3 linked regions of the Homo sapiens genome follow. The protein of the gene in region 3 purifies or fractionates together with the protein of the main gene of each other region. This does not show direct contact. Each region holds a gene or a part of one and is shown on either strand. Other genes may lie near its edges.

Region 1 (7,037 bases), on a different chromosome or scaffold from region 3:
CAGGAGATATCCCTGACTGCAGGTTTTTTTTTTTTTTTTTTTTTGAGATGGAGTCTCGCTCTGTCGCCCAGGCTGGAGTGCAGTGGCGCAATCTTGGCTCACCACAAGCTCCACCTCCCGGGTTCACACCATTCTCCTGCCTCAGCCTCCCGAGTAGCTGGGACTACAGGCGCCTGCCGCCACACCCGGCTAAGTTTTTGTATTTTTAGTAGAGACAGGGGTTTCACCAAGTTAGCCATGATGGTCTCGATCTCCTGAACCTCGTGATCCGCCCTCCTCGGCCTCCCAAAGTGCTGGGATTACAGGCGTAAGCCACCGTGCCCGGCCTTTTTTTTTTGAGACGGGGTCTTGCTCTGTCACCCAGGCTGGAGTGCAGTGCCACGATCTCGGCTCACTGCAACCTCTGCCTCCTGGGTTCAAGCGATTCTTCTGCCTCAGCCTCCCGAGTAGCTGGGATTACAGGCGTGCACCACCACGCCAGGCTGGCTAATTTTTGTATTTTTAGTAGAGATGGGGTTTCACACCATGCTGGCCAGGCTGGTCTCAAACTCCTGAACTGGTGGTCTGCCCACCTCGGCTTCCCAAAGTGCTGGGATTACAGGCGTAAGCCACTGCGCCTGGCCAGCTTTGCAAACTATAATAAATGGTGGTACCAAAGGGCTACTGTTACCACCAGACTTGGCCCGCCAGGTGAGCAGGACTCCCATGGGCTGGGCCCTTATGCGAGGGTGACCTGGCATTCAACCAGAGGGTAAGGAGTGGCCAGCCAGAGGCACCAACCCCTCCTGCCCTGATCACTGAGTGACCAGCAGGACACAGGTTGGGTGAGCCTTGTTCCCAGCCAGGGCCAGTGCACCTAACCTGTTTATAGCCCCAATGGGCACTGAGAAGAAAGAGCTTTCCTAGTTTGTGAAATCTGCAACTGAACTTCATTTTCCAAATCCTCTCCTCGTCTTTGGTTTTTTTGTTTTGTTTTGTTTTGTTTTGTTTGTTTTGAGACGGAGTGTTGCTCTTGTCGCCTAGGCTAGAGTGCAGTGGCACAATCTCAGCTCACTGCAACCTCCACCTCCTGGGTTCAAGCGATTCCCCTGCCTCAGCCTCCCTAGTAGCTGCCAGTACAGGTGGGTGGCACCACGCCCAGCTAATTTTTGTATTTTTAGTAGAGATGGGGTTTCACCATGTTGGCCAGGCTGGTCTCCCCGCCTCAGCCTCCCAAAGTGCTGGGACTACAGGCATAAGCCACAGCGCCCGGCCCTCCTCATCTTTGAAGGAGAACTGACAATCACTAGGTCCTCTCTGTAAAGCCTTCCAATGGACCAAGCGAATATCGTGTCACCACCATCTCAGCAGATCTTGCCACCCCTGCAAACATTGGTATAGAGCCCATCTCACAGAACAGGAAGCTGAGGCCCCGCAAGCTGACAGGATGTGCTCAGTCCTGGGCCTAACGTGAGGGAGCCACGGCTTGAACCTGGCACCACGTGACAGCGGCCCGCGGTCTGTTACACCAACGGCTTTACAGGGTGAGAGCTCTGCCTCACCGTGTGCGAGAAAGGGCACTTACTCAGCAAGTAGCTCTTTCCGTCTGGGGCTTTCTGGGGCAAGAAGTGGGAGAGGAGGTTCTCAAAATAGCAGGGCAGCCGCACACTGGTCATGGGAACGCCAATGTCCCGGAAATATTCCTCCACCTCCCCTTTGCCGTCAAAGTGCGCGGCGGCCAATCTCCCTGCCGTCAGCTTCTTGATGTTCTCCAGGCCGCTGTAGACCACATAGTGGAGGCCCAGGCGCCTGGCCAGATCAGCGAGCAGCTTCCCCTGGAGGGCAGGGAAGGAGAGATCACAAGGCTCAGAAGAAGGATGTCTGTCCCTGGTCACAGCCCCAGCATTCTAATCCCGGAGCGGCCACCATCTGCGAGGTTAACATCTAGACCCCACTTACCCTTGAGGAGGCCCCCTCTCCTGGAATGATGTTCACACATGACACCACGCCCGTAAACACAGCCCCGGAAGCCTTCTACCAGCCACTGACTCTGGCCCACCATGTGCAACATAGGACGGGGGGGCAGGTCGGCTGCAGGGGGACGGCCTGCATGGAGGTCTAAAGGAGAATGCACACGTCCCATCTCTGCTGGTGTGAGAACACCCTGCCCATGGAGCTCAGCCATCTTCCTTGGAGAGCCCTGGGAGGCTATACAGAGGCACCACAGCTGCCTAGGTTCAAATCAGGCTCTGCCATGTACGAGCAGTGTGACCCCAGAGAAGTGATGGCACCATCCTGACCTCGCTGGTAAAATGCAGATGACAACACTACCTACTGCATGAGGTGACGCAGAGATTCGGACGGTGGCCTCCAAAAAGATATGCCGCATCCTCATTCCTGAAAACTGTGAATGTGACCTTATTCGGAAAAAGGGTCTTGGCAGATGTAATTACGTGAAGGATCTTGAGATGGGAACATCCTGCACTAACTAGATAGGCGCTAAATCCAGTAACCAGGGTACTTATAAGAGACGGGAGAAGAGACAACACCTGGAGAAGGCCATGCGAAGAGGGAAGCGGAGATTGGAGCTTTGTGGCCACAAGCCCAGGAACACCTGGAGCCATGAGAAGCCAGAAACAGTGAAGAAGGATTTCCCTCAAACCCCTTGTTTTGTTTTGTTTTTTAAGATGGACTCTCACTCTGTCACCCAGGCAGGAGTGCAGTGGCGTGATCTCTGCTCACTGCAGCCTCCGCTTCCTGGATTCAAGCAATTCTCCTGCCTCACCCTCCTGAGTCGCTGGGACTACAGGTGCCCGCCACCATGCCTGGCTAATTTTTGTATTTTTTGTAGAGACAGGGTTTTGCTGTGTTGGCCAGGCTGGTCTTGAACTCCTGACCTTAAGTGATCTGCCCACCTCAGCCTCCCAAAGTGCTGGGATTACAAGCATAAACTACCACGCCTGGCCTCCAAGACTCTGGAGAGAGGGTGACATTGCTGACACCTTGATTTTGAACTTCTAGCTTCTAGAATATCAGAGAATCGATTTCTGTGGTTTTTGTTTTTGTTTTTGAGACAGAGTCTAGCTCTGTCGCTCAGGCCGGAGTGCAGTGGCACAATCTTGGCTCACTGCAACCTCCGCCTCTTGGGTTCAAGCAATTCTCCTGCCTCAGCCTCCTGAGTAGCTGGGATTACAGGCGCCCACCACCATGCCCAGCTAATTTTTGTATTTTTAGTAGAGACAGGGTTTCACTGTGTTGGCCAGGATGGTCTCAAACTCCTGACTTCAAGTGATCTGCCCGCCTCGGCCTCCCAAAGTGTGGGGATTACAAGCATGAGCCACTGTGCCCAGCTGATTTCTATGGTTTTAAGCCACGTGGATTGTGGTCCTTTTTCGTGACAGTACCAGGAAGCCCACAGGGAATCATCAGGATTAGAAATAAGATCTGCTGGGCTGGGCGCAGTGGCTCATGCCCGCAGTCCCAGCACTTTGGGAGGCCGAGGCAGGCGGATCGCCTGAGGCCGGGAGTTAGAGACCAGCTTGACCAACATGGAGAAACCCCGTCTGTACTAAAAATACAAAAAAATTACCAGGGCATGGTGACGCATGCATGTAATCTCAGCTATTCGGGAGGCTGGGGCAGGAGAATAACTTGAACCCAGGAGGCGGAGGTTGCGGTGAGCCAAGATTGCGCCATTGCATGCCAGCCTGGGCAACAAAAGCGAAACTCGGCCTCAAAAAATAAAGAAAGAAATAAGATCAGCTCAGGGCCGGGCATGTGGCTTACGCCTGTAATCCCAGCACTTTGGGAGGCCGAGGTGGGCGGATCACCTGAGGTCAGGAGTTCAAGACCAGCCTGGCCAACATGGTGAAACCCCGCCTCTACTAAAAATACAAAAATTAGTTGGGTGTGCTGGTACACACCTATAATCCCAGCTACTCGGGAGGCTGAGGCAGAAGAATTGCTTGAATCTGGGAGGCAGAGGTTGCAGTGAGCCGAGATCACCCCACTGCACTCCGGCCTGGGCGACAGAGCAAGACTCAGTCTCAAAAAAAAAAAAAAAAAAAAGATCTGCGTTAATCAGAGAAGTTGTCTTTGTCTGCTCTATATAATGGGCTTCTAGGTAAGACCATAATTGAAGAAAGGGTCAAGGCTAATAACAAGTTTGGATGGGTACACGTGGACATGAAGGCAACAACAGACACTGGGAACCACGGGAGGGAGGGAGGCAAGGGTTGAAAACCTACCTACTGGGTACTGTGCCCACTACCTGGGTGACAGGTCCAGTCACACCCCAGACCTCAGCATCACTCAATATACCAATGTAACAAACCTGTGCATGTACCCCTGAATCTAAAATAAAAGTGGAAATTACTTTTTAAAAAAAACTTCTAACATTTTTGATTAAAAAAAAAAAAAACAAACGAACAGGCCAGGCGTGGTTGCTCACGGAGACTGAGACGGCCTCAAACAAACAAAAAAAAAGTAATTGGATGAGAAAGCAACAGCGTCCACCTGCTTCACAGCCTAGAGCAGGCAGAGGCATGAAGAAGAGGGAAAGGCCTGCAGTGCTCCAACCTCCCTGCAGAGTCGGAGCTCCTCCCAGGCGCTCTGCTCCTAGCCTGGCCGGGCCTCCCTGCAGCTCCTGCCTGCCCTCACCTGCTTGACCTCCTGCTCCTGGCTGCAGCTCTCCCAGTAATTGGTCACGATGAAGGTGGCGTAAGCCCCATTCAGGGCCAGCTCCATGATGACCTGGTCATCTTGGTCTCCCTGCACTACTTCTGCACCTTGCAGCCTCAGCTCCTTTGCTGCCTTCTTCCTAGGGTTTCGGGTCACCACTCGAACCTTGAATGTCCCATCTTCCAGGAGTGTGCGGGCCACGGAGCCACCCTGGGCACCTACAAAGAATCAAAAAGACCTCTCAGGTCAGACCTACCTGAAAGTCCCACTGAAGGGCGAAACCCCGAAGGGAGTGCTCCACCACAGCAAGGAGCATCCAGGAAACCTTCTCAACGACGATTCTCATTCAGGTATTTTTATTTTCTTTATTTTATTTTTTTGAGATGGAGTCTCACTCTATCACCCAGGCTGAAGTGCAGTGGCACGATCTTGGCTTGGTGAAACCCCGCCTCTATCAAAAAATACAAAAATTAGCTGGGTGTGAAGGCACATGCCTGTACTCCCAGCTACTCAGGAGGCTGAGGCACGAGAATTGCTGGAACCCAGGAGGCGGAGGTTGCAGTGAGCTGAGATTGCGCCACTGCACCACAGCCTGGGTGACACAGCGAGAATCTGTATTAAAAAAAAAAAAAAAAGGCCAGGCATGGTGGCTCACGCCTGTAATCACAGCACTTTGGGAGGCCAGGCCGAGTGGATCACCAGGTAAGGAGACCGAGACCATCCTGGCTAACACAGTGAAACCCTGTCTCTGCTAAAAATACAAACTTAGCCGGGCGTGGTGGCACCCGCCTGTAGTCACAGCTACTCAGGAGGCTAAGGCAGGAGAATCGCTTGAACACAGGAGGCGGAGGTTGCAGTGAGCCCAGATCACGCCACTGCACTCCAGCCTGGGTGACAAAGTGAGATTCCCTCTCAAAAAAAAAAAAAAAAAAAAAAAAAGGGCCTGGTGCAGTGGCTCACACCTGTAATCCTAGCACTTTGAGAGGCCGAGGGGGGTAGATCACCTGAAGTTGGGAGTTTGAGAACAGCCCGACCAACATGGAGAAACCACTGTCTCTACTAAAAATACAAAATTAGCTAGGCGTGGTGGCACATGCCTGTAATCCCAGCTACTCGAGAGGCTGAGGCAGGAGAATCGCTTGAACCCAGGAGGCAGAGGTTGCGGTGAGCCGAGATCGCGCCATTGCACTCCAGCCTGGGCAACAAGAGCGAAACTTGGTCTCAAAAAAATAAAGGTAAAAATATTTGTGATGTAATAAAGTAAAAAAAGTAGAATACAAAACCATATTCAGGCTGGGTGCAGTGGCTGTAATCCTAGCACTTTGGGAGGCTGAGACAGGTGGATCACGAGGTCAGGAGCTCAAGACCAGCCTAGCCAAGATGGTGAAACCCCGTCTCTACTAAAAATAAAAAAATGAGGCCGGGTGCAGTAGCTCACAACTGTAATCCCAGCACTTTGGGAGGCCGAGGCGGGCGGATCATGAGGTCAGGAGATCGAGACCATCCTGGCTAACACGGTGAAACCCTGTCTCTACTAAAAATACAAAAACTTAGCCGGGCGTGGTGGCGGGCGCCTGTAGTCCCAGCTACTCGGGAGACTGAGGCAGGAGAATGGCATGAACCCAGGAGGTGGAGCTTGCAGTGAGCCGAGATCGCGCCACTGCACTCCAGCCTGGACGACAGAGCAAGACTCCGTCTCAAAAAAAAAAAAAAATTAGCTGGGCATGGTGGAGCCTGTAATCCCAGCTACTTGGGAGGCTGAGGCAGGAGAATCGCTTGAACCAGGGTGGCAGAGGTTGCAGTGAGCCGAGATTGGGCCACTGCACTCCAGCCTGGGTGACACAGTGAGACTCTGTCTCAAAACAAAAGAAAAAACCATATTCAGATCTTGATGGGATTTGAATTCTTCCTGAAGTAGAATATAAAGCCATATTCAGATACACAACCATATTCAGATCTGCTCAAAAACGAGACAAAGAAAAATAGTTAACAGAAAGGAATACAAAAACTTATTCAGATCTCGATGGAGCTTGAGTCACACAGGCATGCGCATCGGTCAGATGTACCCTTAAGATTTTGCGCGTTGCAGCTGGGCCCAGGGGCTCATGCCTGTAATCCAGACACTTTGGGAGGCTGAGGCACGCAGATCTCTTGAGCTCAGGAGTTTGAGACCAGCCTGGGCAACATGGTGAAACCATATCTCTACAAAAAAAAACCAAAAATTAGCTGGGCGTGGTGGCATGTGCCTGTAGTCCCAGCTACCAGGGAGGCTGAGGCTGGAGGAAAGCCTGAACCCAGGAGGTTGAGGCTGCAGTGAGCCGTGATCACACCACTGCACGCCAGCCTGGGTAACAGAGTAAGGCCCTGTCTCCAAAAAA
Region 2 (2,976 bases), on a different chromosome or scaffold from region 3:
ACAGACTTTTAGGTGCCTACTTAAACGGGAGCTGGGCTCAGAGTTCCCTAGATGATGAGGTTGGCCACTTTTTGTCTGGTCTGAGTGCTGAAGTGTGTGTGTGCTGCATCTGTACACGATGCCAGCAGCTCCCCACTGGGTCCCCCAAGGGTACACTTTCTCGACCACACACACATACCTAATAAATACTTATGGTGGTGGGTGGTTTACAGCAGTAGGTTGTTGGGTGTTATAGTCCCACAAAACATGTAGGTCAATTCGCATCCATCCTGATAGCCCGTGGCACGTGAGTTCTCAAGAGGACTTGGCTTTGTAAAGGCCAGACCTGGTGGCAGGGCCTTGGCCAAGGTGGAGGGTGCCCTTGACAAGGCAGAGGCCCTCGGAGGGCAATGCTCATCCACGTGAGTGCCCCCTCTGCACGAGAGGACCAGCCTGGATGCCCCTCCTTGGAAATACAAGGACCCGCTTGGCTTTGGAAAGTACAAACAGTGTGGGATCCAAGTCTCAAATACGGAATCCCATTAAACTGGGCTTTGATGACAGTTTTTAATTGTGCCTTTATTCAACTTAGTTCATTAAAAATGTTTTAAAGATCCTATAAATAAAGTGACCACTCACATGGGATATAGGTCACCCCTCAGCATGTTATTTTTTTTCTTAAAAAGCAGTATTTCTTACAGGAATCTTACTGATCACACGGTAGTTACAATAATGTCAGATATGATGTATACAGTCTAAACGAGACAGTCCAGTTAAGAATATACATAATGTAAAAATACACATATTAAAAGTTAGCCAAGTGGACAGACGCATGCGGGGGTGGGGGGAGCAGGTGACAGGAACTCCTTTAACAATCAGTAGAGGGCCCAGATGCAAAGAATCTGGTTTTCCCCGTTACAGTAAACAGCTTTCACTAACGTATACAGGTATTTCATACACATCTAAACACACAAGGGTAAGTTGTGACCTGCTACACATAGGGTCTAAAGTGGTGTAATTGTGATTTTCCTGTGATACTCCCAAGAAAACTATAAATAGTGAACCCCATGCAAGTACTGGGAAGCACTAGTCTTTTATCACAGGTTGAACCTGAGGAGGTTTAACTCTTGACATTAGTATCTGTAAAGAGCGTACGGCTCTTTTTGCTATGTTTTCTCCACAACTGACATGCACTTGGTGTGGGAGAATTCTGATGGCTGTCTGACCTAAGAGTGATAACTACTATTCAAAATGTGGGTACCTTTTCAGTAATACTGAGTTACACATTTAACATTAAAAAAACAAAAACGTGGATCATCCACAGCTTTAAGCCGGAAGGCAGAAGGGAGTGTGTCTGAATGTTAATGTTTTCAGTTATACTATTTTGTGTTTCTCCCGCTGTACTCCAGAGTGACACTGGTACACTGCTGCTTTCCGTAACAACACAGGCACTAGTTTGAACTCAGACAAAACCTGAAACAGAAGAAATGCCACTCTTTCTCCAGGGTCTTTTAAGAAACTCGATCAAAATTATAAATTATTCAAGTTTCCTTTTGAGTGGTGTCTTTATGTGTGTAACTATCTAGAGAACAAACCAAACCAGAAATGTCTACCCCTGCAAGAGTGAGGACTTTGGGTGTGGTTCTCTTAGGAGTCAGGGACCTTCAGCAGTTTACAGTCAGGGCCGTTTTCTCACACAGCCCGTTTACCCTGCGTTTGTGCCAACTGTGATGGCAAATGCGTTTTGCGGGGGTTGCGCTTCACAACTCAGGCCTAAAGATCCTCTTAGGGAGATCTCTCTAGCTGAGTAGAAAACTTCTACCCAAAAAGGCGGCGGGTTTTGTGAACCTGAAGAGAAGACTCAGGGTCTCTCTGAAAGCCTTTAAATTACTGCTGGAATTACAAGTTCCTATTAGTGAGAAAAGAGCATTAAAATAACTTGAAGGTCTATTTTATTGGCAACTTAGAATGCAAAGTATTTTATTTTTAAACTTTTAAAATTTGAAAACAAGCTAGCCTACATTAAATAATATAGTTTCCAAAGCTGAATGTGCTCACTTGGAGCTCAGTTTTTCTGCTTGAAACACAAACACAACTTCCTAACACTCCTAGGTGGGAACACTACTGTTTCATGATCTGTGATTGGATGAACTGATCGATCTCAGTTGGTAACATCCCTTTTTTTTCCTTGGTAAGGGTTTAAACAATTCTAGAAGAGCTGCATTTTTTCTGGTTTTACACTGACAATTTCATCCCGAACGTCTCCTGGGAGGCATAGACCATGTACAGGAATCCATCTTCATCTTTCTCACTCTCATACACCTCTGAGATTGGTGTGGAGACGCTGACCATGCTGTGTCCGTTCACCAACAGGAAGAAGGCCTGATTAGCATTGAGCTGTAAGCGCCTTCTATTGAAAGAAAACAACGTGAAGAAATATTGACAACAATACAAGAAGGATGAAGCATGTGTTAAAATATCACCCACTCTGATCGGTAAAATATAAAAATGTTCTAAATGCTCTTGAATCCAATACTTCTCATAAAGCACAGGACACTTCCTTTGATTATATTGACATGAGCTATAATCACTGAAAGATTACATATTAGGCTGATTTTAAACTAGTATACTGTCTGAACAGCTGTTAAACTGTCTAATATAAGAAAGCAGTTCAAATACAGTTTCTGAACTATTCTAAGATCTAAGCCTGTGCCATTTACTGCCACTCACAGAGTCTACATTCTCTTTAACTAGCTTTGCTGTACAATACCTTAATAACTTGTAACACTGATTTTAAACAGGAAACATCTAAACGATGTTATGATGAAAGAAACGGGCTCTGCAGTCTAGCAAGTAATATAAAACCTCAAAAAAAGAAACATTTTATAGTTTAAGTTGAAATTGTTTTAATCATAACTGAATCAGAACTGAATTCAGCTGAAAAATATTTTTTAAAGATTTTAACCAGAACTAAAGATTTAACTGTAAGTTTCATAA
Region 3 (6,878 bases):
GCACTCAGCTGCCAACCCTTCCATACAGAGGCTCAAAGGGTTGTGAGCACTGTCCCTGGAGTTACCTGGTGGGTGATATCTGGCCGCGCTTCCCCAGGGTCCCGTCCATTCTTCAACAATATAGACTTGTGCTTGTCACAGTTGAGTAGCTCATATGTCTTCCCTACCTGAAGAACAGGGAACATGACGAGAGAACAGCATAAGCTTCTGTTACCTAGCCCCGTGGTTCTTCAAGTGTGGTCCCCAAACTACCAGCAGCAGCTGCACCTGGAAACTTGTTAGGCAAATTCTCAGGCCCACCCTAGACCTACTAAACCAGGAACACTGGGGGTGGAGCCCAGCAAGCCCTTCGGGGGATTACTGTGCAGCCTTATTTGCACTCCCCAGTGAATGGTCTGAGAGGGAAACAGGAGGAAGGGCACAACCTGTGACTTCACATTATCTACTAATACACTGGATTTAATTAAAAAACCTGTGGCTGTTAGGCAAGGCCAATGAGACATCCTGGAACTAGGCAGGAGTTAGTAGTTAGCAAGGCTGAATGCTGTGTTTATTACAGGAGCAGTAAGTAGGTACTGTGCAAAATATCGAGTCACCACCCTCAGTTTGCGTACACCAAACATGCACTAAGTGAAGAGCTGCAAATCTGAACAAGAAATGTGAAGGCCGGGCGTGGTGGCTCACGCCTGTAATCCCAGCACTTTGGGAGGCCGAGGCGGGCAGATCACAAGGTCAGGAGATTGAGACCATCGTGGCTAACACGGTGAAACCCCATCTCTACTAAAAATATAAAAAATTAGCCGGGCATGGTGGCAGGCGCCTGTAGTCCCAGCTACTTGGGAGGCAGAGGCAGGAGAATGGCATGAACCCAGGAGGCGGAGCTTGCAGCGCCACTGCACTCCAGCCCGGGCAACAGAGCGAGACTCCATCTCAAAAAAAAGAAATGTGAAAACTAATGATGCAGGAGGCAGTTTAATCAAAGAAAACTCTCAGAAGTAAAAGGAAGAGGGGTTATTCCCAGTTTTAAGACGGGCATGGGGGCAGATGCAGTGGCTCACGGCTGTAATCCCAGCACTCTGGGAGGCCAAGGCAGGCAAATCACTTAAGGTCAGGAGTTCAAGACCAGCCTGGGCAACATGGCGAAACCCCATCTCTACTAAAAATACAAAAATTAGCTGGGCATGGTGGCACATGCCTGTAGTCCTAGCTACTTGGGAGGCTAAGGTGGGAGGATGGCTTGAGCCCAGGAGACAGAGATTGCAGTGAGCCAAGACTGTACCACTGCACTCCAGCAAGACCCTGTCTCAAAAAAAAGAAAAAAGAAAGACTGGCATGAGCAAAGGTACAGATGGAATCAAGACAAAGTAGCCAGGTGTGGTGGCTTATGCCTGTGATCCCAACACTTTAGGAGGCCGAGGTGGAAGGATCACTTGAGCCCAGGAATTTGAGACCGGCCTGGGCAACACGGTGGGACCCTGTCTCACAAAAAAAAAAAAAAAAATTAGCCAGGCGCAGTGCCATTTGCTGGCAGTCCCAGTTACTCAGGAGGATGAGGTGGGAGGACTGCTTGAGCCAGGGAAGTAGAGGCTGCAGTGAACCATCACACCACTGCACTCTGTTGCCCAGGCAACAGAGCAAGACCCTATCTCAAAAAAGAAACAAAAAAGAAAAAGTGGAAACGAAGAAAGGAAATTTTGAGGAAAATTGGGAGCTGAGACACTAAAGGGCAGTGATTATATATGAAGCTGCTTTGTAAACCACAGAATCCTAATGTATCAAGCACAAAGCCAAAAATAATTCTGGAGTAAGCAGGGCAGGATGGGAATGACTGACAGACACTATCCTAACAACTCTCTGTACACTGGAAAAGACATCAGAAGTTTGATGTTAAAGAAGTGGACTACATCTGTAGCAGCTAAAAGAAATAATTCCAAGTTGCAATTTGGAGTCCCAAGGAGCATTAGGGTGGTCAGTAAAAAGTCTAAAAACAAACTGTTATATACAAATACAAGTTTTGGAAGGTTAAGTTTTTATGTATCACTGGAATGTATATGTCTAGCAACATTCTTGAGATATATGGCTCCAAAAAGTCTGCGAAAAAAGGGATGTAGATTTTGAAATTGAATAGTTGAAGTAATGTCACAGAGAGCACAAAGAACAAATGACCAAGAACTAAGTCCATGAGACACCCTTAGTTATAGAAGAAAAAAACCTTCTTGAATGAATAATACAGTTTCAACCCATTAGTAGGATATAATCATGTTTTCTATTCTTTTAATAGATTACAGGCGCAGGCCTGTAATCCCAGCTACTCTGGAGGCTGAGGCAGGAGAATCGATTGAACCCGGGAGGCGGAGGCTGCAGTGAGCCAAGATCGTGCCACTGCACTCCAGCCTGGTAGAGACTGAGACTCCATCTCAAAAAAAAAAAAAAAAAAAAGTGTATTTAGAACGAAGATTAAAATCCTGGCCTGACTTCTAAACCAATGCGATTTCTTCTGGGCCTATTCAATTAGTTCTAACGGGTAAGAGAAAGGAGGAGGAAGAACACTGCCCAAGGCTTTAAGATAGAGAACTGCTGGTTCTATTACATGTGGGGAAAGAGATGAATGATAGATAAAAATGCAGATGTAAAAGTTTTAAATAATAACCAGGTCTGGACAGTGTATCATAGGTGGATATTAGAGAGAGGTGACTATGGATACTAATGAATTGAAACACGAAGCCCTTACAAAAAGTGTGGGCAGACTAGGCTACATAACTACGTTTCTCATCTGCCCAGTAACTTGTCTTGGGATGTGGAATGACGCAAGGAACGAAACTTTCCTCTGCTTAGACTACTATACCACAGAATCCTGGTAAACCAATTGGAAGCAAGGAGGTGAGGGCTAGAATATCATTCAAAAAGAGCAAAAGAAAATGAGTACTACCGGCCGGGCACAGTGGCTCACGCCTCTAATCCCAACACTTTGGGAGGCCGAGGCGGGCGGATCACTTGAGGTCAGGAGTTCGAGACCAGCGTGGCCAACATGGTGAAACCCCATCTGAACTAAAAATACAAAAAAATTAGCCGGGCGTGGTGGCACCTGCCTGTAGTCCCAGCTACTCCAGAGGCTGAGTCAGGAGAACTGTTTGAAGGCGGGAGGCAGAAGTTGCAGTGAGCCGAGGTCGCGCAACTGCACTCCAGCCTGGGCGACAGAGCGAGACTCCGTCTCAAAAAAAAAAAAAAAAAGAAAGAAAAATGAGTACTACCATCCCAGGATGTCAAATCAACGCAAAGCCAACCAAGCCACCTTCCTTCAAAAGCATCTTTCACCCCTCTCTGCTTTCTACATCCACTCTGGGCCCCTTACCCTCATTCCACGGAGTCCCAACCTATCGATTTACTACTTCTCCACTTCCTGTCCCAAACTACCTTGACTGTCTCCAGACTGGCCCCTTCCAGCACCACAATAAGCCTACGGCCTCCGATCTTGTTTCCTGCCCCTAGTCGGGGCCGCTTGGGTGGCAGAGCATCCCAGTCCTGTGCCTGCTCCCCACCGCTTCGTTCACGAGGCTTGAATCCATCACTGGGCGCGGCCATCTTGCAACAATACCGGAAGTTGCGCTAACGCTCTTAAATAAGAACAGCGCGGCTTCTAATCACAAATTTCCTTCCGGCTGCCATTTTGAAAGTGGGCCAGGAAATGGAGATGACTTGCTGTCTTGCGCTGCCCTCCCTGGGAGGGCAGCCTTCCAGAAAGGGGCGGGACTTCCGTATGCGCGATTCCTGTGCGCGAAGTTCGGGTCCGTAGTGGGCTAAGGGGGAGGGTTTCAAAGGGAGCGCACTTCCGCTGCCCTTTCTTTCGCCAGCCTTACGGGCCCGAACCCTCGTGTGAAGGGTGCAGTACCTAAGCCGGAGCGGGGTAGAGGCGGGCCGGCACCCCCTTCTGACCTCCAGTGCCGCCGGCCTCAAGATCAGACATGGCCCAGAACTTGAAGGACTTGGCGGGACGGCTGCCCGCCGGGCCCCGGGGCATGGGCACGGCCCTGAAGCTGTTGCTGGGGGCCGGCGCCGTGGCCTACGGTGTGCGCGAATCTGTGTTCACCGGTGAGCAACCTCCGCCTGCTCGCCGGACGCTTCCAGTCCCTCCCCCAAACCCCTTGCCCTGTCCCCGCGCCCCTCCACGGGCCTAGCATTTCCTCTGAGCAGCGGCCTGGCCTGATCACCACCCATCTCCCCACAGTGGAAGGCGGGCACAGAGCCATCTTCTTCAATCGGATCGGTGGAGTGCAGCAGGACACTATCCTGGCCGAGGGCCTTCACTTCAGGTAATGGCGGGCAGAGCCTGCTGACCCTGACCTTTCACCCTTGACGCCGACCCAGCAGTGGCTATAGTCGGACGTGCAACAGGATTCAACGCTGCTCTTTTCCCACCCTCCTCATCCCTGCCCCTAGGATAGTGGGTGCTGCGAGAACCTCCAGCAGCATACAAACTGTTGTTTTCCAGAGGGACAAGAGAATCTCTCCTTGTCTGTGGTCGTGGAGAGGAGCAGGCCAAAAAACGCGTGGTGAGGGGAAACCGGGCAAGGCTAGTGAAACTGCGGCCTTTTCTTTTTTTTTTTTTGGAGAGGGAGTCTTGCTCTGTCGCCCAGGCTGGAGTGCAGTGGCGCGATCTCGGCTCACTGCAACCTCCGCCTCCTGATTTCAAGCGATTCTCCTGCCTCAGCCTCACGAGTAGCTGGGATTACAGGCGCCCGCCACCACGCCCGGCTAATTTTTGTATTTTAGTAGAGACGGGGTTTCACTATGTAGATCAAGCTGGTCTCGAACTCCTGACCTCAAATGATCCGCCCGCCTCGGCCTCCCAAAGTGCTGGGATTACAGGCGTGAGCCACCGCGCCCGGCCGAAACTGTGGCCTCTTAATACCTATCCCTGTCCTCTCCAGGATCCCTTGGTTCCAGTACCCCATTATCTATGACATTCGGGCCAGACCTCGAAAAATCTCCTCCCCTACAGGCTCCAAAGGTAGGTCTGAGCACTTGGTAATCACATGGCAGGTGGGATGATCAAGGTAGCTGGCAAGAAACCCCAGGGGAATATGGTAGTGTCAGGCCTTTAGGCCTCTTTCCACATCTGCAAGAGCTGTAACAAAAATACCTGCCTCCTGGGGTCAAAGCAGCAAATTCTGAACACACTGTGTTTGCGTGCTTTTTACTGTCTCCTCCCTGACGTGTATTCAATAAGAGTATTGTTTGTCCCTCGTCTTGTTCACTGCCTAGATCAAAGCTTTGTTTTAAAGCCTTTTTTTTCTAACTGCTTGACTTACTATATCTACAGTTACATCCACTAGTACACTCTGTTCTGGAGAAGTTTGTCCCTAAGCTTGACTAGTTCACCTGTTCTCTCCTTCTAGACCATACATAAAAGCCGTGCCTTTGAGTTCCCCAGACCTCTTCCTCCTCCCCACCCACGCACACATATACACCCTGGGTCAGGTAGCTCACCTGTAACCTGTAATGTACTTCTTTGTGCTATACCTAGTGCAGGTCGCTTATTCATTTACTAGACTGGGCCCTGGGAATAAAAGATTCATTAAACACAATTCTTGTCCCCCAAGTCCTTACAGGAGACATGATTACGGTACAGCACGAAAGCGCCCACGTTAGAGGTTGCACAGAGTACAGAGGGGGAAAGAGTAGTCAGCTCTGCTGGTGACGGGGTTTGCAGTTCAAGGCTTCACAGTGGGTGAGGGTGCATTTCAGCTGTGCTGCGTCTTGTCTTCCTTGTCAGCCTGATTAACTCTCCTCCCCCCAGGGTAGTGCCAGGCTGTACACCATTGCACAGGGCATACAGGGAGGAACATGAAGGAGAAAATGCTTGGGAAAGGGTGTTTGGCCTTGACCAGCCACTGCTGACCTCAATCTCAGACCTACAGATGGTGAATATCTCCCTGCGAGTGTTGTCTCGACCCAATGCTCAGGAGCTTCCTAGCATGTACCAGCGCCTAGGGCTGGACTACGAGGAACGAGTGTTGCCGTCCATTGTCAACGAGGTGCTCAAGAGTGTGGTGGCCAAGTTCAATGCCTCACAGCTGATCACCCAGCGGGCCCAGGTCTGACTCCCACCACCATCTGCGTGGTGTCAGCCTTTCCTTCCTAGGCCCAGAGTATTGGGAATTAGGAAAGGCAGCTTATTAGAAAAGCATTGTCACCCTAGTGCCATTTCCACCTAAAAGCTGTGCTAATTGCCACTGTGAAATAAGGAGAGCCAGCATTAGAACTCGATAGCACTCGGTGTTAGGAAGCACAGAGGAAAATGGCCAAGTCTTGGCTTTTCCTGCACCTCTTCGAGCAGAGAGGCTTATGTTACAGGTTTGCCTGACAGGAAGCTAAGGCAGTGCATGTTGTATTGAGAGTGAAGGGTTAGGGGTCGCAACCTTCCTTTCAGCTCCCCAGTCCCCTCAAACCACCCCTCCCTTCCCCTCTTCACCCCTGCCCTCAGGTATCCCTGTTGATCCGCCGGGAGCTGACAGAGAGGGCCAAGGACTTCAGCCTCATCCTGGATGATGTGGCCATCACAGAGCTGAGCTTTAGCCGAGAGTACACAGCTGCTGTAGAAGCCAAACAAGTGGGTGAGTCGCAAGAGCCGTGGGGTGAGGGCTTCTGAGATGCAGGAGGAGGAAAGACTCCATGGGTGGGGCTCCTGACCCAGGACAGGGTCTCCCTGACTCTCTCCCACCACAGCCCAGCAGGAGGCCCAGCGGGCCCAATTCTTGGTAGAAAAAGCAAAGCAGGAACAGCGGCAGAAAATTGTGCAGGCCGAGGGTGAGGCCGAGGCTGCCAAGATGATATCCTTCTGCTGGAGAGATCTCAGCCCAGCCCCTAGGGCACCTGAG

Evidence for each region.
Region 1: the proteins of PHB2 (region 3) and NMRAL1 purify together in Homo sapiens (affinity purification with mass spectrometry; 4 studies listed by BioGRID and IntAct, with this or other methods). This does not show direct contact.
Region 2: the proteins of PHB2 (region 3) and MAP1LC3B purify together in Homo sapiens (affinity purification with western blotting; 3 studies listed by BioGRID and IntAct, with this or other methods). This does not show direct contact.

The regions. Positions count from the first base shown.
Region 1 is NC_000016.10:4,464,589-4,471,625, forward strand, and holds part of NMRAL1 (nmrA-like family domain-containing protein 1), read right to left. Parts: intron 6,828-7,037; exon of another isoform or gene 6,726-6,827; intron 5,111-6,725; exon of another isoform or gene 5,006-5,110; coding exon of another isoform or gene 4,916-5,005; intron 4,878-4,915; coding exon 4,639-4,877; intron 1,815-4,638; coding exon 1,565-1,814; intron 1-1,564. UniProt on the Homo sapiens protein: Redox sensor protein. Undergoes restructuring and subcellular redistribution in response to changes in intracellular NADPH/NADP(+) levels.
Region 2 is NC_000016.10:87,402,336-87,405,311, reverse strand, and holds the end of MAP1LC3B (microtubule-associated protein 1 light chain 3 beta), read right to left. Parts: intron 2,390-2,976; coding exon 2,215-2,389; 3' UTR 538-2,214; downstream 1-537.
Region 3 is NC_000012.12:6,967,628-6,974,505, reverse strand, and holds the start of PHB2 (prohibitin-2), read left to right. Parts: upstream 1-3,841; 5' UTR 3,842-3,962; coding exon 3,963-4,089; intron 4,090-4,225; coding exon 4,226-4,310; intron 4,311-4,928; coding exon 4,929-5,008; intron 5,009-5,910; coding exon 5,911-6,095; intron 6,096-6,484; coding exon 6,485-6,614; intron 6,615-6,726; coding exon 6,727-6,830; intron 6,831-6,878. Other genes in the region: EMG1 (ribosomal RNA small subunit methyltransferase NEP1), read right to left, coding at 66-167, 3,415-3,582.